Linked DNA regions of Homo sapiens: regions 2 and 3 are each reported to be linked to region 1. Evidence: microRNA targets listed by miRTarBase, many of them from high-throughput screens and not tested one by one. Region 1 holds a microRNA gene; each other region holds the end of a gene's coding sequence.
What was found. The annotated mature microRNA hsa-miR-4513 reads AGACUGACGGCUGGAGGCCCAU and lies in region 1 at 3,207-3,228, opposite strand. An mRNA with a match to its seed (bases 2 to 7 or 8) in the 3' UTR can be bound and repressed. Matches are read on the target gene's strand: a 7mer-m8 pairs with bases 2 to 8, a 7mer-A1 pairs with bases 2 to 7 and ends in A, and an 8mer does both.

Region 1 (6,598 bases):
ACCTGCTGAGCCTCGTTGATATAAATAACAGGATGGTAACACCTACTTCAGAGGAAGGTGTAAGGACAGTGTCAACTAACTAACCAAGGGACTCTAAAGTGCCTGGCACAGCCCTTTCTTCACTCCCTCTGTGAGTAGGATTGGCATTGTTGAAGGAGTGCCCACTGCTGGCTGCCTCAACCTGTGGGGAAGGTGCCTGAGCCACGGGCCAATGTTGACTGACCACTCACCTGGCAAAGAGGTGGTCTCCGCCTGAGGAGCCCCTGTGAAACCCCCTGGCCCTGAGGTTCTAGAATACTATGGCCAGTGCCCTTGCCTGCCTTCCCTTCTCCCCATTACCATATGATTGGCTGGCCTAGGACATGGGGCTGGCCCTGGGAAGATGGGCTGCTGGTTAGGGTCCGGGACCTGACTCCACCCATTCCCCTTCCGGTCTCCCAGCATCAGAGCTAAATAGACAAGGCCTCTTCTCTCTCTCTCTCTCTCTTTTTTTTTTTTGTGTGTGTGTGTGTGTGTGTGTGTGTGTGAGATGGAGTTTTGCTCTTGTTGCCCAGTCTGGAGTGCAATGGCGCGATCTTGGCTCACCACAACCTCCGGCTCCCGGTTTAAGCGATTCTCCTGCCTCAGCCTTCCAAGTTGGGATTAGAGGCATGTGCCATCACGCCTGGCTAATTTTGTATTTTTAGTAGCGATGGGGTTTCTCCGTGTTGGTCAGGCTGGTCTCAAACTCCTGACCTCAGGTGATCCACCCACCTCGGCCTCCTGAAGTGCTGGGATTATAGGCGTGAGCCACTGCGCCTCTTCTGTAAGAGCCTGGCTGCCTCCTGCCTCCCAGCTCTGGCTAGGTCAGCCCAGCTTGGCATTTTCCCAGAGGAAATAGAGGCCTGCTTAGCCTGAGACTTAGACAAGGAACCCAGGCATCCTGAGCCCCAGCCCAAGAACAGCCATGCCAGCCTCATCTTCGCACCCTGTTCCAGTAGCCAAGGAAGGGAAAGAAGCTGGGAGATTAAGGGTAGGGGGATTCTGGAGCCTCCCAGAGCTTCCCAGGAGGGAGTTGGACACATCGGGAAACTCATGTTAGCCTCCCCCTCCTCAGCAGGTGTTCCCCAGGTCTAACCTGAGTGTGTATCACTGTGACACACCTGCTTCCTCTTGTTCTACTTTTGTGGAGACCAGGGTAACTGGGAGTGCCCTCCTACAGCCACCCCGTGGGCAGTAGCAGGACACCAGTCTCCTCCTGGCAACCCTGGGCCTAAGAGACTGTAGCCCCAGATGACCCTAGGGTGGCCCAGGACTAACCTAAGGAAGGGGTCCTCCCCCAGGTGGCCCATTCAGTGCAGAGGTCCCTTGGGCACACGACTTCAGACTCCAGCTGCCAAACTTTGGCCTGTGGAGTATCTCCTCCTCCCTGGTCTTAGTGTAAGGGAAGTGGGCATGACAACTGCCCTCCTGTCCCACAGCTTGGGATGGGATGAGGTCACAGGGTGGGGTCCGCCCCAAGATGCTGGCCTGGCCTGGCTCAGATGAGAGCCCTTTGGGTGTTTCTCAGTTTCCCCCGCCCTTGGTTGGGGACAGGATGGGTGGAGGAGCAGGCCACCCCCAACGCCCGGCAGGGAGCACTGCCTCCCTTCCCCCTCTCCTCTGGGTCCCTTCATCCAAGGGCTGGAAATAGAATCCGCTAAGTAATGATTAAAGTCAAATTCAGACCTAAAAATAAAGAGCTGGTGAAGGAAGAGCTGGTGCTCCCTGCATGGCTGAGGGGAGAAGTGAGCAGGGAGAGGCTGGCTTTGGGTGGCTGAGCCCCTGCTCCTCGGGATCAGAAGTACTCCACCAGTTGGGGGGGTGCTCTTTTATCTGCCATGATGTGGCCCATTAAGTGTAGACGGCACCACTCAGGGCAGACTGGCAGGACCCATTAGAAAAAAAATCCCATTTTTCCCATGGGGAAACTGAGGCCCAGAAAGGAGAAGTGGTTTGTCAAGCGACTATTTGAGAGCTCCCCTCAGCAGGCCCCCAGGGACTGGAGGGCCCTGTGCAGCCCAGCCTGCCCTTTCTGCCTGCTCAGTTTCTCTTCCTGGTTTTGAGGTGCTAAGATGAAGTCAGCTTCTCATCACACACTAGCTGTGCACACACCCTCCAACCGCAGCTTCCCTCCACCCCTCCTTCTGTGGTCTGGGCCCAGAGTCGAAGGAACAAGTAGAAGAGAGGCTGCTTGGTGCCCCCCTGGCTGTCCTGATCATGGCATGGTTGTAAGCCTCGTGGGCAGGCGAAAACCTGGGCATCATCTGCCCCCCTTGGACCCTGGCTGCTGCTTCTCAGCCCAGCCTGACACCTGGTCCTCATGCAGACTCGCGCATCTATCTATCTGCAGCTTGTGCTGTCCGTGCTGCAGGGAGACAGGAGGGAAGGATGAAGAGCAAACCCTGAGAGCGCCTCTGCTGGCGGGTAGAGGAGACGAGGAGTCAGTGAGGGGAGGCCTGTGGTTCTCACTTCCTGGCAGAGCTGGTAGGAGCTCTGAAGCTGGGGCTCTGCGTGGGCTGGGGCAGCCTGGAGGGCCTCCTGGAGGGGAAGGTCCTGTGAAAGTTGAGAAGTGTTTGAAGAAGAAGCGTGGTAGGAGGAGAGGTCCTTGTTTGAAGCTTCTGCCCTCTCTAGGGCTGCTGGCTCTTTTCTGTGTGTCCCTCGACAGGCTCTTGGCCTCTCTGAGAGGCTGGGGTATGCAGACAAGCAAGAAGTGGGCACAGAAGTACCTCTGCTTCCCAGAGCAGAACAGCCAAGCTCTGGGCAGACCTCCCCTCGGTGCCCCCCACCTGTCCATTTTCAGGGTGTCGTCTGTCCTGCACAAGGAAAGGTGGGAAGAAAGGTCCCCTAACCAAGGTTCAGACAACTCTGAGCTCAAGTACCCACACAGCTAGTTCCTCCTCTGTCAGAGATCACCAGTCCTTGCCCTATGGGGTGTTTGAAGGATTAAGTAACTAATGCAGTGCCCCAAACCCGGTTGGGTCAGTCAGCTGTAATTCCCGTGTTCTCATTCTGCAGCCCATCCTGCTGGAGGAGTGTACTGGTAACACCCCCATCTCCCTTAAGTAGTAGCAAGTCTGTCCTTTGTGTTGATCCCCACAGCTTTACCTTCTGAGCTGTGTGTTCTGCAGATCCTGGTTCTGAAGTGGGGAGACCAGAAATCTGGGGGCCGAAGTTTTAGACAGCTTATGGGCCTCCAGCCGTCAGTCTCCCCACCTAGAATGTGGCCAGGAGACTTCCGGGTGAGGGACAAGAACATGACTTTGAAGGGTCCATTGAAGGCTAGTGCTGAGAGGCTATATGCAAATGCAGGCAAATGAAGATGCAAAGACCACATCCTGTGCTAAGGGGGTGGGGGAGCAGAGGCCTGGGTTAGGGCCCTGGGGAGGCCCAGAGTCCCCATTGCCCAGCGCACATAGGTAATTAGGCTCCTGAGCGGTAATTAGAAACCTTTCTGGGCCAGGAATGGCAGCCTCAAGCCGCAGCGGTGCCTGGGGAGTAGGCTCCCCATTAGCCTGCTCTAACCCCAGCCCCCACCTCTCCCAAACCACTAGACGGGATTTCCGGTCCCACTGAACCATTGGGGGCAGGGGAAAAAAAGCCAGTGTGTTGCTATAATTTGGTATTTATCCATTAAATCCGCCCTTCTCCTTAGGTCAGGGTGCTGACGGGAGCCCCGGGATGGGGGTAGGGCAGCGTGCCCTGGAGCCAGAGCAGGCATTCTTCTGTTCCTTCGTAACCGCCCCGGGAGGTGTAGGCATCTCCAAGACCCTGGCGCCCAATTCTGCTGCTGCTCACCCTGAGACACCTGTGCAGTGGGGGTGCTGAGGGACCACCAGCGCAGGCTGCGGGGGTCAGTGGAAGCCCTCGGGCACCCTTCCTTGCCTGATGTGTGGTGGGGAATGTCACAGTGCCTCAGCCTGGTGTCCTCTGCAGAACCAGAGGTGGAGCTGATTTTATTGCTGCCAAACTTGCCCAACTGCTGGTGGGTGCCCCGCCCTCCTCAGGTGCACTGCCCTTTGGAGGGGCGGGCCCAAATCTGAAACTTAATTCTGCCTGTATCTGTACTATGACCTGTAGGCCCTGCTCGGAGGTTCCCTGGGCCCCCATCCTGAACCTTCTTCAGTCTTCATTAACTCGCTCTGTACCACAGTTTGCAGTCTTAATCCTGGTTTACTTCAAGGCGCCCCTCTCTCAGTCACTTTCCCCTAAAATCCTTCTAGCTCCTGCTCCCCTCACCCATCTTCCTGGAAGCCTTCCCGGGTGGCCCCTGTCTCACAATCTATTGAGGCACTGAACATACCAGGCCATGGCTGACCATCCAGTAACCAGGAGGACAGGAGCCGGGTCTGCATTTTGTGGTGGTTCCCAGCATCCAGCCCTGGCTTGTGCACAGAGGAGAGGTGTGTGAGTGGTGACCTTGGGTCCCCAAAGGCAGGACCTCTTGAGTCCTTTCCTTCTCCACCCGGATATCCTGGCCTACCAAGCATGGCTCTGGGCACACAGGAAGGCTTCTAAAACACTGGCTCAAAGAATGAGAAGGCAAGGTGGACCTTGCTGTTGCCTGTTTTGCCTCCAGTGGCTGTCCCCATCCCCCAGAGCATCCAGCTAGGTCCTGTGGCAGCACCAGAATCTCCGGGGGCCAGGGCCCTGAGTTCCCCCAGGTCTTTTGTGCACTTCCCTTTTCAGTGGGTATTTTTAGCTGGGCGTAAACAGTTACTGAAGGCTCCCACGCCCCATTAGGCAGCAGAGTTTTGGCAAGGGGGAAGGGCAAGGGAGCCCCTTGACCTCCCCTGGCCCTCAGCACGTGCCTGGCCTTGGGGGTCTACAGCTGCTTCCAGGGTAGGAAAAGGGCAGCCTGGGAGTTTCTGGGCTCCCAGTTCTTTCTCCCCACTCCTTGTCAGCCTGGGCTCACAAGAAAGGCTGCCTGAGGCTGCAGCCACTGACCTCAGCGCTTGGGCACAATGCCAGCCTGTTCCCGGGACCCCAGCACAAGGGCTGCTGGGAGCCGGGTTTAGGGCAGGAAGTCAGAGTGAAGCACTGGTCCTGCCACATCCCAAGCCCCTTGTCCCCTAGCCCTGCGGGAATGGGGTGACAGCTGCTGTCCCTTTGGGGTTAACTATAGTCCTATTGGTTATGAGACCTCGGTGTGGTACAGCCAGCCTGGCGTCCCCTTTTTTTCATTCGTTCATTCATTCATTCATTCAGCACTCATTTACTGAGCAGCCGCTTTGGGCCCAGCCCATGCAGACGTGAGTCAGACCCTCACTTTCCCCCTGCAGAGCTCCCAGTCCACCCTAAACCACAGGCCACAACCAGTGAGGTTCTCACTGGAGCACGGGGATGTGTGAGAGGCCTTGGAGGCCTCGGCAGCCAACACAGCTGGGGACCCAAGGAATTCTCCAGAGAGAGGTGATTTACAAAAAGTTTCTTATTTCCAGTTTTAAGGGGGAAGGTAATAGATGCATGTGGCTTTAAAAAAATAATAATAATTTTTTTAAAAGCCCAAAAGGACAAAATAGCAAATGAACAGTAAAAAGTAAGTTTCTCTTGAACTTGATCTCACTTTCCCTTCTCATCCTAGAGGCAACCTCTGTTACCAGTTTCCTCTGTCTTTCCAAAGATAATCGAGGCATATTTGAGTTTAGGGAGGTGTTGCATTAATACCTCTTTAAAAACACAACTTGTAGTATTCCATAGAGAACCTGCACCTGGCTTTTTTTTTCACAGCCTTTTATTTTGAGTATTTGAAACCTACCAAAAAGTTGAAGTAATAGTATAATGAATATTCATATATCCTTCATGCAGATTTGCCAGTTCTTAACATTTTGCCACATTTACTCTATCTCTTCTTTTATCTACATAGACATATGTGTGTATGTATTTTTTGCTGATTTGAGTGTTAGTTGTAGGCATTGCATCTTTCACCCTAAGAACTTTAGCGTGTATCTCTTATATAATCACAATGTCATGATCACACTTAAGAAAATTGACATTAATTCCATATTATCTACTATGTCCATTTCCCCTCTCCCCAAGTGATTTTTATAGCTGTCCCCCCGACCACCCCTTGATATAGAATTCAATTCAAGATCATTTATTGAATCTTGTCATGTTTCTCTAGTGTCCTGTTCAATCTAGAACATTCTCCAGCCCTTTTTTTGTTTTGCTCTTTTATGACATTGACATGAAGAGTCCGGGCCAGTTGTTCTGGATTTGTCTGATTGCTTCTCCCTGGTTGGAGTCAGGTGGAACAGCTCTGGCAGGAACGCCCCCCCGGGCAATGCAGAGTCCTCCTCCAGGAGGCACTTAGTGTCCATGCGTCACCTTGCTGGTGATGCTTCACTGGATCACTTGGTTCCGGGGTTGTCCGCACGTCTCCCTGTAGTGCAGGTGCTCCTTCCTGTTTCCAATTAGCCTGTGGGATGGGACTTGGAAGCTGTGTCTGTTCTGCTCCCCTGGCAACTTTTTCTTCAATGACTTGAGCTGGTGTTTTGCCATTTTCCATACTCTATCATGGGGAGTGTTCAGTATCGGCATCTAGAGATCTCCCCTGGCCCCATCACAGCTAGAGCTATGC
Region 2 (10,570 bases), not on the chromosome of region 1:
TTGTCTGTCATGCAGTTGTCATTTAAAATCTCAGGAGAATGGCCAGGAGAGGTGGCTCACACCTGTAATCCCAGTGCTTTGGGAGGCCAAGCAGGAGGATCATTTGATCCCAGGAATTCCAGACCAGCCTGGACCTTGTGTCTACAAATAATTATTATTGTTATTATTATTATTATCCTGGCATGATGGCTCATGCCTGTAGTCTCAGCTGCTCGGGAGGCTGAGTCAGGAGGATCCCTTGAGCCTGGGAGTTCAAGGCTGCAGTGAGCTATGATCACATCACTGCACTCCAGTCTGGGCTACAGAATGAGACCCTGTCTAAAGAAAATAAAATAAAAATCTCAGGAGCAAGTGAGAGTGGAGAGAGCAGAGGCCCAGGATAGAGCCCTGAGGAGCCCTTGCATGGGGCAGGAGAGGCAGGATGGGCCACTGACCCATGACAGGCCCAGAGGTCAGGGTTAGAATCTAGGCCTCCCTCCAGGCGGCCAGCAGGTGGAAGGGACTTAGGGCCTGTAGGTCAGGGGGCTGGGCTTCCTTGCCTCTTCCTCAGGCATGAGTCATGGGGACCTATGGGACCTTGGCCATTCCCAGTGGGGTGGGTGTGTGTGAGCGTGTATAGTGTGCATATGTGGCCCAGGGCATGGGGCCAGTATCAGCGCCTGAGGGACAGTCTGTGCGAGGCTGCTTAGCCCAGAAGGGGGCTGCGTGGCAGGGGGCGGGCTTCCCCTCCCTGGACACTTTATCACACTCTGCCTGTTTGGGCAGGGGCTGGACCAGGCACTTGGCACATCTTGCATCCTTTGATCCTCACTTTCATTCTCTGAGCTGGTTGTTTATGTCCATTTTATACATAAGGGAACTGAGGCCGGGCGCAGTGGCTCACGCCTTGGGAGGCCGAGGCAGGTGGATCACATGAGGGCAGGAGTTCAAGACCAGCCTGGCCAACATGGGAAAACCCCATCTCTACTAAAAACATAAAAGTTAGCCGGGTGTGGTGGCAGGCACCTGTAGTCCCAGCTACTCGGGAGGCTGAGGCACGAGAATTGTGGAGTTTGCTGTGAGCCAAAATCGAGCCACTGCACTCCAGCCTGGGTGACAGAGAGAGTCTGTCTCAAAAAACAAAAACAAAAAAAAAAAACAAAAAAAAACGAAAAAAAAACCAAGAGGCTCAGTTAGTGAGGTATAGAGGTTTAGAGGTCTCAGGGCAGGTTGATGATGAAGCTGAAAATCTGACCCAGGCAGGCTTGGCTGGAGAAGAACTTTTTTTGCTTCCGGGTAGGCTGTGAGCTCCTAGGCCCGGCTGCCCTGTGCCCAGCATGATCTCTTCTCTCGGTGGGATTCTAAGGCAGCAGCAGGTCCCCAGGCATAGGCACAGCCTCGTCCTTTAGTGGAGCTTCCAGGTCTTTCCATGGGGAGGCTTCACTGCCCAGTGCCTGGGGCCAGATGGAAGGGCTCAGGGGGGCTGGCACAGGTGCACATCAGCGGCTGCCCTTGGGACAAGGCTAGGTTCTTTATACTTGCAAACCACTCAGTTGCCCCATCTGTACAATGGGTGCAACCGGCCCAGTCCACACAATACCCTGCGAGTCGCAGTTCCTGCAGAATTGGTTGGAACCGGCAGGCCGCCTCCCCTCTCCCCCTTCCCCCACCACCCCTACTCCGACACCCACATCAACACCCTGTGCGCCTGTCCCCAGGACTTCAGTCTGCTGTACGAGGAGGCGCGCTACTATCAGCTCCAGCCCATGGTGCGCGAGCTGGAGCGCTGGCAGCAGGAGCAGGAGCAGCGGCGCCGCAGCCGGGCCTGTGACTGCCTGGTGGTGCGCGTCACGCCCGACTTGGGCGAGCGGATCGCACTCAGCGGCGAGAAGGCCCTCATCGAGGAGGTCTTCCCCGAGACCGGAGACGTCATGTGCAACTCCGTCAACGCCGGCTGGAACCAGGACCCCACGCACGTCATCCGCTTCCCGCTCAATGGCTACTGCCGGCTCAACTCGGTACAGGTGAGGGCTGCACGCTGCCCCCTCCCCGCCGCACCCCCGGCGTCCGCGGAGCCCTCCAGGGGCAGAGTGAGCTGGAGGGAGGCGCGATCCCTGAAACGGTGAAGCCCCCCGTGCCATCCTACAAAAAAGGCAACAATGTGTCGATGCATAATTTATGTCCCTCTCATAATTAAATGATGGCGCCTGGGGGATGGACTTAAAAAAATCGATCTGTACTTTTTTTTTTTTTTTCCAAAAGGATGTTCTATAAAAATGGCCCAGAGTATTTTCAACAAAGCGTGCTTCATTTGACACCCAGAGTCTGACTTTGGATTCGAACTAAACCCAGGCAACAGGCGAGGCAGGACAGAGGCTGAGTGGAAAGGTGGTCTGGAGCCCCTTCCCTCTCCCTGCTGACCTGGGAGTCGCAGGCACCCACCAGCTGCCAAGAGAATCCCTGGACCGGCTCTTCCTGGATGGGTCCAAGAATTGGACAGCTCAGATGGAGTGAGGGCCTATTTTCCAACAGCTCTTCGCAGACCCAAGAGCTTGGCACATTTCCGGGTTAGGGTGGAATGGGCTTTGCAGGGAAGAGGGCCCCCTGTGCACGCATTCCACAGCCTGTCGGTCAGAACTTGCTAGTTGCAGGAGACGGGTGTTACACGCAGTCATCAGACCTCACCCTCACAGAGGCACAAACCCACATAGTTGTGGACGCCTGCAGAGACTCAAATATTGAGAGGACTTCTCCTTTTTCTCTCCCTCCAGAGCTCCCACGAGCTGATGCACCCCCAGGCTTCAAACCACCTGGAATGCACAGCTCAGGGAAGCTGGTGGATGCCTAGAGGCTGAAGGACAGGGAACTCTCCATTATTGGGGCAGGACTCAGGGAGGACACTTGGGGCCATGTGTCTGGAGAGAGGGCATAGGTTACACCCTACAGAATAAAGAAGGGACCCAAAGCCTCTTTTTGCCTCCCGGAATCAAGGCCCTGAGGGCAGCAGGATGGTGGCCTGGGTGGGGTCGTCCAACTAGGTTTGCTAACCTGAGGGGTCACTGGGCCTGGCCACTTCTGTCCCTCTGGTGGTGGAACCCAGCACGTGGTTCTGTAGGGACCTTTGTCAGTGAGCAAGACTGAGATCGTCACAGGAGAAGGTGCCCTTGCTGGCTGCCCCAGCAGGCACCCACCTCCCTGCCAGGCCAAGCCAGGTGTCCTCTTGCAGCTTGGCCTTGATGACCTCTGTTTCTTCCTGGGCAGGTCCTGGAGCGGCTGTTCCAGAGGGGTTTCAGCGTGGCTGCGTCCTGTGGGGGCGGTGTGGACTCCTCCCAGTTCAGCGAGTATGTGCTTTGCCGGGAGGAGCGGCGGCCGCAGCCCACCCCCACTGCTGTTCGAATCAAGCAGGAACCCCTGGACTAGGCCCTGCTTCAGTGCCCACCTGGGCCCCCCCAGGGACCTGGAAACAGTGCTGGGGAGTTCTGCCTGTGTATACTTGGCCGTGGGCATGAGACCGAGGGTGAGGCTGGAGGGTCCAAAGCTGGCCCAGCGAGCACCAGGGTCCCAGGTGTCATGGCAACAGAACGTGGGATGCTGGAGGCATGCCTGCAGAAGGACTGTTGATGCGACCCAAAGATACAGCGGTGGGATCTCTGCTGCCAGCTCTCCCAGCCCCTCAGCTTCGCAGCCTGGCGCAGCATCCTCTGAGGCCCCGGGGCCTGTTGGGGCGGGGTTGGAAGAGCCGTCTGCAGCTACTTCAGAGGAGCTGTTTATCCCTCTCCACGCGGGGCAGACTCTGGCGGGTCTCCTAGCGTCCGAGAGATGGCTTATTTTCTACAGTATTTAAAATGGATGCAGCCCTAACTGCAAAAGTCAGAGAGGCTGACAAGGACCAATGCTTCTTTATCTGGTGCTCAGTTCTCAGTCAGACGTGCAGCATGGCTGCAGGGTGGACCAGCTGCCTGGCATTCAGGCCCAGATGCCTGCAGGGCTGGGGCTCTCGGGACAGATGCAGGGATGTGTGCTGCAGGGCTGCTGGGAGGAGAGTGGTGGGGGCCTGAGGGCTGAGTGATTCTGTAACCACCTGAGACCTTCACGTTTGCTGCCGTTGGGGGCTCAGGCTGCACTCCCCGGGTCACCTGACCTGCTGCCCAGGGGCTTCCAGTCCTGTCTGTGTGGACTGGCACCTGGGCTGCTGGAGAAGTCTCCTCCCGTTCGGACCAGCCTCAGGGCTGCACGTTACCTCAGGAATGGGCCCCACCATGAAGGGGCCCATCTGTCAGCAGCGTCTTCTAGGTCCCCAGCTCAGGGAGCCATCCCCAGCTCCAGTTTTCTCATGCGAATATGCACAGTTTTAATTCACGTTGTTACACTAGCCTGCCGATGAGACCCAGACACAGGCAGACCTGGCGCTCTTGACCCCTGATTCCAGTGAGGACTGGCCCTGAGGAGTCCTTGCAGACCTGCTGCCTCCCCCACGACAGGCCCAAAGATGGACCCCCCCTGGCCTTGTGACAGCTCCCCAAGTGTTCTCCGGTGGAGAAACTGCAGAGGACTGGTGGGCGGGGCTCCCCAGCCATCACCATCCTGTGTACAATGGCTGTAGACTTGTATATGGCTCCTTTAATATTGTAAAGATGCTGATGTACAATTGTCGTGCATTTGTGTGAACACATTGCGTTCCCAGTCCATGCCATAAATGATGCTCTCAAGCAAAAGACTGGAGGCTCTGTCCTGTGCAGAAGCAGCAGCCAGACTCCCGCATTCGATGTTGTGCAGGGAGGTTTGGGGGCGGAACGGATTCCTCCCTTGGATCCTTCAGTTCCCATCGAGGAATAACCCGCAGCAGTGGTGGAGGAAGGTCAGTGGCTGGGTCCTGAGCTTGGTGTTATTTATTGCATTTGGGTGCCTGTCCCCTCAGGGCAGCACAGATTCTGAATTCTGATTCACAGTCCCTAGCCAGATGGGAACTGGGAAAGAGACAGAAGGCGTCTGGGTGCTTTTGAACCCTGTCTCAAATGTTTGGGATTTTCTCTCTCACTATTCTTTGGTTGGGGATGATGTCCTCTTTAGACCCCCACGTAATGGTATGAGAAGGTGGCAGGCAGTGGCTCAGCCAGCCAGGGGGCACCAAGTCATGCAGCCAGCGTGAGACCTGCAGTTCACCTAAGCACAGAACGAGATCTCAGTATGCCTCCATGTAAACAGATTCACATAGGCCTCCAATTTCAATGAGACCTTTTGCATTTTTTCTCAAAGCCCTTATGTTCTAACCCATGAGAACCATTTTACCTGCCCTCTAAGGGCCACCAGCTTCGACCTGCCTCAGGGGACAGCAGCACAGACCAGTGGCTCCCTGTCCAAGGCCGCAGAGCAGACGCCATCCCACTGTACAATCGAATTTGCTGGACAAACTTGATAGGTTTCTCTGCTTAGCAACGAGCCTATAGTTAGTTGGCACATCTGCGTTTTGGCATCTGAGGCTCCCATCTGAGTGGAGGAGAAAGTGTTGTGTTTATTAGCAGGAAGTCTTGTGAAAACAGCTCGCTGCTGTGTATGTTTATGGATTTTTCTGATATAACAGCCAGCATGGTTACCGAGTGGTAGAGATTCTCGAACATTCTCAAACTCTCTTTTTGGGTAAATGATTGTGCTAAAAATAAAATTTATTAATAAAGAAGGGGAAAAAGGAGTAACTCTACCTGACTAAATGTTACTCTAATTTATTTATTTCTTTACTAATTAAGTAAAACCAGGAAGTATGATTTTACATCAACCAGAGAATTTCTGAATTTATAGGGAAACACTATGTCCCCATAATGATGCTATAATTCTAATATATCTAGTCCCCATAAACAGTAAGTACAAATTATCATTCCTTTAAAGCATTTTTACACTTCCTGGAATGAGTATATTATCAGCAATCTTTTGTCAAATGCCAGCCGTATAAATGTTACTTCTGCTCTTTGTAAACCTCAAAACTCATTATTCTTGATTATAAGCAACTGGACAGAACCATGCCAAAGCTTCCCCGTTTCCCACCAAACCCCTGCCAGTGAGTGCAGAGAACTCGCAAAGCCACAGCAGGCGGTCTCAGCCACCGTCCCGCTCACAGGGGCCCAATGCCAGGTCACAACACTAAGAATATCTTTCAAAAAATGTGTCTTTTTTTTTTTTTTTTTTAAAGCTACTGCTTGACTGTTCCTTAGAATAAATAAAGGATATTTTATAAATTACAGCTCTAGCCCTTGGTTTGTAATTCACGGAAGCAGCCACAATCAGGTACTCCAGCATTGGTCCTCGGGAACCACCACTCCCCACACTTGGGACCTGGTGTGGCTACTGAGTAGGACCTTAACATCCCAAGTCCCAAATCCCAAAGCTTCCTGATTTGAGGACTGACCAGAGAGCAGCAGCGTTGTCTCTAGGCGCTCAGTGCACATGCTGTTGGCAGATCTGGCGGGGAAAATGGTGCAGGCATGGCCTCCCTTTACCTCTCCAGACCCCCAAGCCTGGACTCAAGTGTTCAGGCTGTGATGAGCATGTTGCACTACGTTGGTGTTGCATACATGTATATCTGTGGACCAAACCACTAACATTCAAAAGAAGGAAAGTGGGCGGGTCACAGTGACTCATGCCTGTAATCCCAACACTTTGGGAGGCTGAGGCGGGTGGATTGCTCCAGCACAGGAGTTCAAAACGAGCCTGGGCAATTTGGTGAGACCCCATCTCTACAAAAGAATTTAAAAATAAGCCACTCATGGTGGCATGTGCCTATAGTCCCAGCTACTCAGGAGGCTGAGGTGGGAGGATCACTTGAGTTCAGGAGGTTGAGGCTGCAGTGAGCCATGTTCACACCACTGCACTCCAGCCTAGACAACAGAGCAAGCCCCGTCTCAAAATAAATAAAATTAAAAAGAGAAAGCATGGCTGGGTGTGGTGGCTCACACCTGTAATGCCAGCACTTTGGGGCCAAGGTGGGTGGATCCCCTGAGGTCATGAGTTCAAGACCAGCCTGGCCAACATGGCAAAACCCCGTCTCTACTAAAAATACAAAAAAAAAAGGATTAGCTGGGTGTGCTGGCATGTGCCTGTAGTCCCAGCTACTCGGGAGGCTGGGGCACGAGAATCGCTTGAACCCGGGAGGCAGAAGTCGCAGTGAGCCGAGATCGCACCACTGCACTCTAGCCTGGCGACAGAGCGAGGCTCCATCTTAAAATAAAAAAATAATTAATTAAAAAAAAAGGGAAGCACAGATGTGAGAAATGGGGAAACTATATCCATTGAGCCACTGACCAAGATAATATTTAACTTGACTAAGCCTAGCAGAGCCTGCCCACTTCCCCTCCCTAGAGGCCAACCCATGTTCTCGAGGCAATGCTGTCTGCCAAGATGGCCCCATCCCATCAAGCCCTGCCTTCCCTCCTGATTCTCCAGAGACAGGAAAATGGCTGCATTGGCCCTGGAAGATACTCAATTTCTCCTAAGTAGATGACAAGGTGGAAAATACAAAAATGGGAAACTGCCAGGGGATATTCAGTTGGAGGCAGGAAATCTGCCTCAGTTCAAAACAATAGGGAGGTCTAGACAGAGCTAGAGGGACAACTGATGGCCAGAGAAGGCAGCCGCTGGCCTGGATGGAGTCTGACATCTGGGCTGATGTAGCTGTTGTAGGAAGTAGGATGTCACAGGTTGATGGCCATCTCAAGGGGGGTAGGCAATGTGTTTAGCCACAAGGCTCAAGTCAGCCAAGTAATATTGGTCTTGTCACATGTGTGATGAGAATGTGGGTGGCTCTCTTTGCTCACCCCAACCCCGCCCAAAGGAGGAGTTTCCTTGTAGAGAGAGGGCTTGCCCTCACCTGGAGATCAGGGGCTGGCAGCTGTCTTATCTCTGATGGAAGATTTGATGTGGAGTTACCTGCACTGAAGAGTCTGGGTCACTGTATAGGGTAAAAGCCCACATCGTTAACTGCCACAAATTTTAAAATTTTCTACAAATGGATTTGCTTAGAATGAATGGTAAGAAAAGGGTCAGGTGCAGTGGCACACACCTGTAATCCCAGCACTTTGGGAGGCCAAGGTGGGTGGATCATTTTAGGTCAGGAGTTCGAGACCAGCCTGGCCAACATGGTGAAACCCTGTCTCTACTAAAAATACAAAAATTAGCCAGGCATGGCGGTGCGTGCCTGTAGTTCCAGCTACTCGGGAGCCTGAGGCAGGAGAATCGCTTGAACCTGGGAGGCAGAGGTTGCAGTGAGCCGAAGTCTCACCACTGCACTCCAGCCTGGGTGACAGAGTGAGACTCCTTCTCAAAAACAGGAAAAAAAAATGGTAAGAATAGAAAGATGATATTAATGCATATGTGTCAAAAGCAGCTCCTGCCTTTATTAGTGAGAAGTTTCTCATTAGATCAAATGAAGTTTCTTGTCAGTATCCAGAGAAACCTACAAAGGCATCACAAAGATAAAGCTCTAACGTCCAACATAAAGCCCGAGACAAAAGATGGTCTAGAGCACCTGCTTGGAGGAAGGTCTATCCAGGAACAACTGTATTTAGGTTAAACTGCTAAATTCACCAACTAGGGCAGAGAGGCACAGAAACATTCCCTCCAGAACCCCTTTCCATTAAGAGTTCACTCCTGTCACCACATTCTAGGCAGCCCCGATGTTCTCTGGAGGACCGGTGAGGTAAGGTAATGCTTTGTGGACTAACAGAAAGAAAAAAGTGTTGGTGACAGCTAAGGGCAGCTTCCTGCCAGCACCAAGACTAGCGCTGATGTTCTCTTAGAAGCACCAGAGTTTTCTAAGGTGACCCAAATGGAACACAACCCCAGGGAAGGTTGAAAGTCAGAAAAGAAGAGCGCGTCTCTGCTCTTTCTGGATCTCACAACCAGCGAGTTCTCGCAGCCATGGCCTCTGTAAGCCCAGGGACATTTCTCTGTGAGCTTTCATTGGAAGGGAAACCCCAGCCCCAGAGAAGCCTACCCCGCCACATCCCAGGCTAATCCCTGGATCTGGTTCAGGAGCTCTCTTCCTGCAAGCCCCAAAGCTAGACAAGCAGAGCCCTGCCAGGCCCATGGTGACCTCTGCAGACCTAGGAACTGCAGGCAGAGTTGGGGGCTCGTTCCTGGGGAGGGGCCCACCCCTGAGGTTGTGCATCCAGGAGGGGCCCACCCCTGAGGTTGTGCATCCAGGCATGACTGACTGTTGGTAGCTGTTTACCCTCAGGGAAAGAGAACTTTCTGTGTTTTTATCTCCACCCCCAGTGGAAGGATATGTTGAGTAGAGTTTTTGCTTTTTGAGGAAAAGTCATGATTTGGAAAGGGGCGCTGATGTATCTGTTGAGGCTTTGGATGTTGATTTTTAAAGGGTCCCTGCTTCCCTGCAAAGATCCTTATCTTCACAACCACCCAAGAGCACCACTTATTGGTGGCCAGCATATGCCAAGCACTGCAGGTGCTTGGGAGGGCAAGATAGCTCATGAGGCTTGGAGCAGACATTTGTTTATGCACAGGAATTGTTCACTTTTTTTCTTCTCCTTTTTTTTTTTTTTTGTGAGACAGGGTCTCACTCCGTTGCCCAGGCTGGAGTGCAGTGGTGCAGTCTTGGCTTACTGCAACCTCTGCCTCCTGGGTTCAAGCGATTCTTGTGCCTCAGTCTCCCGAGTAGCTGGGATTACAGGTGTGCACCACCACGCCCAGCTAATTACTGTATTTTTAGTAGAGGCGGGGTTTTGCTTTGTTGGCCAGGCTGGTCTTGAACTCCTGGCCTCAAGTGATCCTCCCACCTTGGCCTCCCAAAATGCTGGGATTACAGGTGTGAGCCATTGCGCCCAGCCAGGAATTGTTTACTTTCAATTGTGTACTTGAAGCTCTGTAAATTTAACAGGAAGAGAGACCACATTGCAGTTTTCCACTTCGTCATGACACTGAACATGGATTACCCCAAATGCATTGATTTGCATGTAGAGAGAACCACCTCTCAGGCCTCAAGACTAGCGTCTCCATAGCAAAGGAAGCTTCTGTGAAATTCTAATGAGAGACCCAGAGAAAGAGGCAGGCACACTCCCGGGGACACACAAAGGAGAGGGGTTAGGGGTCAGCTGCATTTGGGGTTTTGTCTTTATTTCCATTACACAGAACAGCCAGTCCCGACAGCGCCCAGGCCCCACAGGACAATGCTGTTCCTGGACCCGGAGCCATGGCCGTGGAATAAGAGCTAGGTCTTCAGGGCCTCCTCCTAGGATCCTTCTTAACACAGAAATCACAAACCAGGCCAAAGTCTTAAAAAGCAGAGCCTGGGAGGGGCAGGGACGCCCAAGCCACGCTGGGGCCCGGGAGGCCTCCCGTCCTGCCCGCGGGAGAACCCAGGCCGCGCATCCCTGGCTGGACGGCGTCACCAGCCGTAGCTGGGCCAGGCCTGCTGCTCAAAGCCCGTGTCTAGGATGTCACCAGAGCTCCCTTTTCTGTGTCCTGGACCCGGTTCAGGGCCCCCGAGGAAGCTGCGGTTTGGGGCGAGCCGATTGCACCAGCAGGGCCGGGCTGCTGCTCCCGGGGCTGACGCGGGCCACGCCCTCCTGGACGCGGACACACC
Region 3 (8,071 bases), not on the chromosome of region 1:
ATGTAGAAAGCTGAAACTGGATCCCTTCCTTACACCTTATACAAAAATCAATTCAAGATGGATTAAAGACTTAAACTTTAGACCTAAAACCATAAAAACCCTAGAAGAAAACCTAGGCATTACCATTCAGGACATAGGCATGGGCAAGGACTTCATGTCTAAAACACCAAAAGCAATGGCAACAAAAGCCAAAATGGACAAATGGGATCTAATTAAACTAAAGAGCTTCAGCACAGCAAAAGAAACTACCATCAGAGTGAACAGGCAACCTACAAAATGGGAGAAAATTTTCACAACCTACCCATCTGACAAAGGGCTAATATCCAGAATCTACAATGAACTCAAACAAATTTACAAGAAAAAAACAAACAACCCCATCAAAAAGTGGGCGAAGGACATGAACAGACACTTCTCAAAGAAGACATTTATGCAGCCAAAAGACACATGAAAAAATGCTCACCATCACTGGCCATCAGAGAAATGCAAATCAAAACCACAATGAGATACCATCTCATACCAGTTAGAATGGCAATCATTAAAAAGTCAGGAAACAACAGGTGCTGGAGAGGATGTGGAGAAATAGGAACACTTTTACACTGTTGGGGGGACTGTAAACTAGTTCAACCATTGTGGAAGTCAGTGTGGCGATTCCTCAGGGATCTAGAACTAGAAATACCATTTGACCCAGCCATCCCATTACTGGGTATATACCCAAAGGACTATAAATCATGCTGCTATAAAGACACATGCACACGTATGTTTATTGCGGCACTATTCACAATAGCAAAGACTTGGAACCAACCCAAATGTCCAACAATGATAGACTGGATTAAGAAAATGTGGCACATATACACCATGGAATACTATGCAGCCATAAAAAATGATGAGTTCATGTCCTTTGTAGGGACATGGATGAAATTGGAAATCATCATTCTCAGTAAACTATCGCAAGGACAAAAAACCAAACACCGCATATTCTCACTTATAGGTGGGAATTGAACAATGAGAACACATGGACACAGGAAGGGGAACATCACACTCTGGGGACTGTTGTGGGGTGGGGGGAGGGGGGAGGGATAGCATTAGGAGATATACCTAATGCTAGATGACGAGTTAGCGGGTGCAGCGCACCAGCATGGCACATGTATACATATGTAACTAACCTGCACATTGTGCACATGTACCCTAAAACTTAAAAGTATAATAATAATAAAAAATATATAGAGAGAGAAATGAAAAAAAAAAAAAAAAGAGTTCTGTACACAGGCGGATGGCTCCTCATCTAGGCTGGTAATTTCACAGGGGCTGTGACGCAAACCTATTTACCCAAACCTTCCATTATATTCAGCAGTGCCCTGAAATGATCAATTTTGAAAGTGAACTAATGAGATACTCAAACTTATTTTATTACTCTAAAGTACAGAATACAAACAACAGAAATCATTAGATATTGAACAGCATTTTTATGTAAATAAAATTAAAATATCTCAGTCGTCTGTACAGACAACTTCATTTGTAACAGAGACTTGTTTTATCTTTAGTGTATTCTACTCTATTTATCTGATACGACTATTTTGCTTTTAAATGTTTTCCTTAAAATTTTTATAACTAATACTTCACTAATTACTTTACCAAATACATAGATTAAAATATCCCTAAATGTCAATTTTAGCAGGACTACCTTTTTCCTTTCAAAATGTAGTCAAATATACCTTTAACAGTATTCATATGCACAAAATTTAAGCCAAATATTCAAGCTTACAGGCAAAGATCTTGAGCACACTTACTGCTGTGCCAAAGGAATAATCTTGGCCCCATCCCTACTTATAAAAAATATATAATAAATCATGATCTTTGATTAAAGCAAATGACTCTTAACAGAATGTGAGCTATTGCCAAAAAAATGATTCTAACAGTTATGGTTTTACACTCACAGCCTAGGTTTCTAGTAGTATGTTGTCAAAAAAAGCAAATGAGGTGATGATTGGCAGTTAATGGTCATTGACAAGATTTTAAGGGTAGTTAAAAAAGTTTCTCTGAAGTATCAATATCAAATGTGCTAAAAGGAGAAAAGTAGATGCAGCACTGATGTGTCAAAAATGACTTTGAAAATGTAAATTCCTGTGTCTGTAATAGGTATCCTTTAATAGCTGAAAGTAACAAATGAAAAGCCAAACATTCACTATTAACATACATGGGGCCTGACACAGTGGCTTATGCCCGTAATCCCAGCACTACAGGAGGCCAAGGTGGGAAAATTATTTGAGCCCAGGAGTTCAAGACCAACATAGGCAACATGGAAAGACTGTGTCTCTATAAAAAATAAAAAAATTAGCCAGGTGTGGTGGTGTCTGTAGTCCCAGGTACTCGGGAGGCCGAGGTGGGAGGATCGCTTGAGCCTGGGAGACTGAGGCTGCAGTAAGCTGAGATCATGCCACTGCACTCCAGCCTGGGGCAATAGAGTGAGACCCTGTCTCAAATATGTAACACACACATACATACATAAATATATACACACATACATGGTAGCCAAATGGAAATTTTACTGACTCTTTGATTAGTATCATTACACTTCACATATGAGTTTTAGTCTTCAGTTAATTCCTGGGAAATGCCAAAAATAAAAATACTGCCACAGAGAAATTAGTTTTTCTCTGCTACATATTGGCTCAAAAGTAAGCACCTGAATATTAATTGTCTACATTTTGTATTTTTAAGATCTTATTTCAAAACAATTTACATTGAGAGTATTATTTATGCTCTTAAACAGGATCAGGGATATCTTTATTTCTAGACTCTGGGAAGATAATTTACCTGAGCAAAATGCAAAGATAAATAATTATACAAAAATTTAAGTCAGTTGTCAAAGCTAACAATGCATCACCTGGCTTCAAAATTTAACAAACAAAGAGTCTACATAAATATCTTTCTTGTCTACACATCTTTCTTGTTATGGTAAACATTTTGTTTTTTCTAACAAAACACTGCTCTTCATTTTAAAATCTAAATGGCAAAATGAGAATGATAACAGCGAATTAACAGGTTTGAATGTGGTTTATAAAATTAGGAATGGGCAAACATGGATTAACTGACTCGAAAATACTCTGGAATAGGGGTCACAAATTTGGTCCACAAGCCAAATCCAGCCAGCTCATAAGAACAGTTTCACATTTTCTAATGGCTGAAAAAATCTAATGGCTAACACAGTAGTATTTTGTAACACATCAAAATTATGTAAAATTCAACTTTCAGTGCTCATGAAATTTTATTGGAACATGGCCACACTCATTCGTTTAGGTACTGTCTATGATTGCTTTCACATTAGAATGGCAGAGTTGAACAAATGCAAAGGAGACTTATGTGGTGCTGTCATCATTTTGCACTGCTACTTGGCACACTAAAAACTGCAGTAATGCAGTTACCAGCATTTTGAGTGCCACATATGTTGTCATACCACAATATTTTTAAATTTTTTATTACTAGTGCTTACCCATAACATCAAAACAAGAGAAAAAAAGAAAAGTAGACTTGAAGTGACATTTTTAAGGCACATTAGTATATGAATTTTTAAAAATCAGATTAGATGTCAGAGTATGATGTTTAATATGCAATGTCATTATAGCTGTTCTTAAAGAATACTATAGGGAGGTCAGATGCAGTGGTTCATGCCTGTAATCCAAGCATTTTGGGAGGCTGAAGTGGGTGGATCACTTGAGGTCAGGAGTTCAAGACCAGCCTGGACAACATGGTAAAACCCCATTTCTACTAAAAACATAAAAATTAGTTAGGTGTGGTGGCATGTGCCTGTAATCTCAGCTACTTGGGAGGCTGAGGCAGGAGACTCGCTTGAACCTGCAGGGTGGAGGTTGCAGTGAACTGAGATTGTGCCACTGCACTCCAGCCTGGGCAAAAGAATGAGACTCAGTCTCAAAAAAAAAAAAAAACAAACTCAAAAATGAAAATAAAGTTGCAGCCAAAGTGACTCAGATGTTAACCAAGCAAGGAAAACATTTTACTAACGATAACTAAATTGTGTTTGATTCTATCGGCTGAAGGACTGTGTCCAAAGTAAACTTAAGACTATTAAATTAGCCTTTTGGCAAGAATGGTTGCTTAAAGAATTGAGAACACTGGGAACAACATCAACAGTCAATAAAAAACAAGGCAAATGACCCTGAGTGGTTTTCCTTGGCTCTTGATGAGTCAACAGATGTTACTGACACTGCCTAGTTATTGCTTATTTGATAAGTCAATGCCAACGTTGAAGTGACTGAAATTAGTCTCTATGAATTATCTGTGTGGCACAATTACAAGCATGAATATTTTATAAGAAGAAAACACAAATTTCATGCAACCTGAAGTAGAATCTGCTAAGATGTGTTACAACTGGTGGTGTTAAAAATGTGTGAAGCAAAATGATTACGTTTGTCAAATTTATAAAGCCTGTGAAAAGGTAAGAAGGTATTTAAAATCTATGGTTATTTACTGTATTATTCATCAGCAGGTACTTTGTGGGATATATTTGATTCAATTTTGTATTACTGAACTACTGGTAGCAATGGTGAACTTCATTTGCTCTCATAGTTTCTGATAGATTAAACATCAATGGTTCAGTTATCTTTTGTCAGATACAGAAGATGAATATGCTGATTTGCCCAACCACATTGGCATAATAGTGTTAGTTCTATTGTGAGCTTTTGCGTTCAGGGCTGATATTGACATTTTTCTGAAAAAGAAGACATGTCCTCAATCACTATTATGGAACACTGAATGGCTTTGGAATTTAGCTTTTGCTCAAGACTTAATAAAATTTTGAAATGAATTCAAGCCAAAATTACAAGGCAAAACGTGTTTACAAGCAAAACATAAGTCATTTTGATGACAACATTGTTTGAATTACAAGTAACAACAAGCTGCTTTACACATTTCCTGTGCTATCAAAAGGTAAGACAAAGAAGCGAGATCTCCACTCTCACACAAATTTGTAGCTCACACCATAGTGCCTGCAGTATTTTTTGGAGTTTGCAAATGTAAAGGAAATTTCCATTTTTCAAAATCAATTTAACAGTGCAATTGAGGAGCTTCTGCCTAGTCTTCAATTGGAAGTGATTAAGCTGCAATGTAATAACATGCTAAAAGGAAAATATCCAGAGAAGAAGTAACCTTTCAAGTGATGAATATGCTCAACAAAAATCATATTCTCATGGATTAATGTAAGTATTTGACAATACCTATCTGCAAGGAATTTTCAGAAGTAAAATACATAAAATCTTATTACAGATCAGCATTAACAAATGAGTACTTACAATCAACTTTAATGACACGAAACATTAACTTTGATCCTCCCTGTAAATATTTAATTCTTTTCATTAGTAAACCCGTATTACAAAAAAAATTGTTCTAAATTATTGTTTTGAATTTTGTCAATAAAATTTTCGTGCAAATTTTATTTCTCTCTAGTTATTTAAGTATCTACATAACAATCTCAGTTTTACCTCTTAGCCCACAAAGCCTAAAATATTTACTATCTGGCCCTTTATAGAAAAAGTTTCCTGACCTCTGCCCTAGAGCCAGAAGCTACCCTGAACACCTAAAAGCACAGGTTTAATGCAATGCTTCAGAAGCCAGATGGCCTGGGTTTATATGTTGGCTCTGCCACTAGCAGCTGTATGATCATAAATAAATTCTTCAATCTTTCTTTGCCTCAGTTTCCTCATCTGTAAATGGGGGTAAGTAATGGCATTTATCTTACAGGGTTGTTGTGAGAATTGAATTAGTCAATGCAAAGCACAAGAAACAGTGCCAGGCACAAAGGAAGCATTCTCCTCATGTGACTACTGAACACTTGACATACATCGTTTTGTTAAAAAAATGAATTAATTCTGCTACTCAGAAAGTAGACAGAAAATATTTTGTGGCATGAAAAGGCACAGCTGTTTTGAACACAAAACTAATATTAACTGTAGTATAACAAAATTCATTGTCCTGTTAAGTGCAAAATCGTTATATTCCAGCATCCACACACCCTAGCAAGATATATATCTCTCTCTATATAATATATATAATTATATATATGTATATAATATATACATGTACATTACATATAATATAAATGTAATATATAATTATATAATATATAATATATACATGTATATATTAAAAATCATAAATGTGGATATATATTATCTATAATATGTATATATAATGTGTATATATAATATATATCTCCACATTTATGTTTTTTTATATAATTCAGAAACCTCAAAACTTTACCTTTCACAAAATGTTAAGGCATCTGCTTCTAACAGTTGGAAAGCTTTTTTTATTTAGTAGTTTACCTCTTATTCTTGATTATACCCAAATTTTTATATTGGCATTATCCAGTAGTGAAATAGACAAAAATATCAGAAGAAAAGTGGAAACACTACAATTTTTTTTAAGAGAAAGGGACTTGCTATATTGCCCAGGTTGGAGTGCAGTGGCTGCTCACAGGTGCAATCATAAGTACACTAGAGTCTCAAAATCCCATCTCAAGTAATCCTCCTGCCTCCACCTCCTGTGTCGCTAGGACTACAAGTGTGTGCCACCACACCTGGCTAGAAAAACTAAAAATTTTCCAGTTGAACAGTTAATCCAGAGAAATAACCAAACAGCTGGAAAAGCATGTCTCATTCTCCAACTAGCTCTGACCATTTTGTACATACCAAACAAAACACTTGCCAGGTCACAGGCTTAATAAGACATCCTTACATGAAGGTGTAAAAAATTAACTTTTTTTTTTGCATAAATGCCACGATACTTTATTGCTCAGTGTTCCTTTGAAAATAAGTTAGCATGATTCCATGTTATTCTTTTATCAATCATATTATTGACTAAAGCATATCACTGATTAACATAAGGTAAAAATAATATCCACTCATATTCTTGAAGAGAAGTGCTTGCAGTATTTTATGAAAACATTTGTGCACATTTTTACTTGATTTAATGGACAATTTCATATTTTTCTTTAAAATCTACAAATGTCTTAATTCTTACCATTAAAACAACTAAAAACAAAACCCAAAACCAATCCCAAAATTAAACCCCAACAAAGCACATTAATTTTAATACAGAACATATATTAAGTCACTGAGTAAAGCTCTTTTTTATGAACACTTTTGGAAAGCTTGCATTCAGTTCTAGCACAGCTCTGTTATCAATCTGCGAACAGAAGGACACATCAAGTAAAGAAAGATCTTTACAAGATTCCAGGAGTTTTCTTAAGGATGCCGGACTTACCATTCTTGTTCCTATTTAAGGGAAACAAAACAAAACAAAACAAAACACCTTAAGTATAACATTTATATAATGTGCTAACAATGAATCCATCCATGATTTATTGTTTGTAATGAACTTAAAATAACCCTTTACAAATTAAAATCATTTTTTCAAACATGACTTCATATTGAAATGGTTCTGTTAAAAAAGTAAAAGTTGAATTTTCCAGCCAATTTAGCATCTAGGACCTGAATCTTGCCAATATCCTACCCACTATCTTCATTCCTACCTCCTACCCCTTCAAATCAGCTCCTCCAGACTTTCCTATTTCTGTCACCCCAGTTCAAAATGGTTTTCACCATGCATTTGATGTAAAATGTGCAAGTGCGATATGACTTCACAAAGTATCAATTGTGTGGACAATGATAACTACTGTGACACTGCTAGCACCCCTGGCTAAAAGTAAGAAGCAACAAAATTACACAGGGTTCCTTTCTGATGAATGCAGCAAGGATTCAAGAAATCCCAGAGCTGGAAAAGATTTTCAATAGATCTGCCTGGGGTAGAACTATTCCTAAACGCTAGAATTATCAGGGATAAAGATTTCACGATATTCCTTAATCAAGAATTTTAATTAAGAAACTTAAAAAAAACTAGCTTGAATTCATTATACAAATGAATTAATTTCTTCTCTCCTTAATAAAAATAGAGAGCGCAGCTCATGTAAATTCTCACTCTTACAAGTAGACCAAGAATTAATGGTTATAGTTTTTTACAGTTTCAACTATAAAATTGTTATTGTCCTCACTATTTT

Region 2: miRTarBase lists KCTD15 as a target of hsa-miR-4513. Seed matches in the 3' UTR shown: 7mer-A1 at 3,898-3,904.
Region 3: miRTarBase lists FBXL4 as a target of hsa-miR-4513. Seed matches in the 3' UTR shown: 7mer-A1 at 4,268-4,274.

What each region holds. Positions count from the first base shown.
Region 1 is chr15:74,785,517-74,792,114 of GRCh38, forward strand. It overlaps MIR4513 (microRNA 4513), which reads right to left and starts at 3,241; the gene lies at 3,156-3,241. The region is part of intron 1 of CSK (C-terminal Src kinase); the gene reads left to right. RefSeq lists enhancers at 1,692-1,881, 1,952-2,171, 2,292-2,341, 2,352-2,461, 3,522-3,831 and 5 more and a silencer at 2,284-2,461.
Region 2 is chr19:33,809,550-33,820,119 of GRCh38, forward strand. KCTD15 (potassium channel tetramerization domain containing 15) reads left to right here. Exons shown (of 7, transcript NM_001129994.2): 6 at 1,698-2,003; 7 at 3,241-6,212. The coding sequence ends at 3,399. Among named protein-coding and RNA genes, the nearest start is that of KCTD15, 18 kb to the left of the region's middle.
Region 3 is chr6:98,867,153-98,875,223 of GRCh38, forward strand. It overlaps FBXL4 (F-box and leucine rich repeat protein 4), which reads right to left. Exons shown (of 10, transcript NM_001278716.2): 10 at 1,383-7,289. The coding sequence ends at 7,126. Among named protein-coding and RNA genes, the nearest start is that of POU3F2, 37 kb to the left of the region's middle.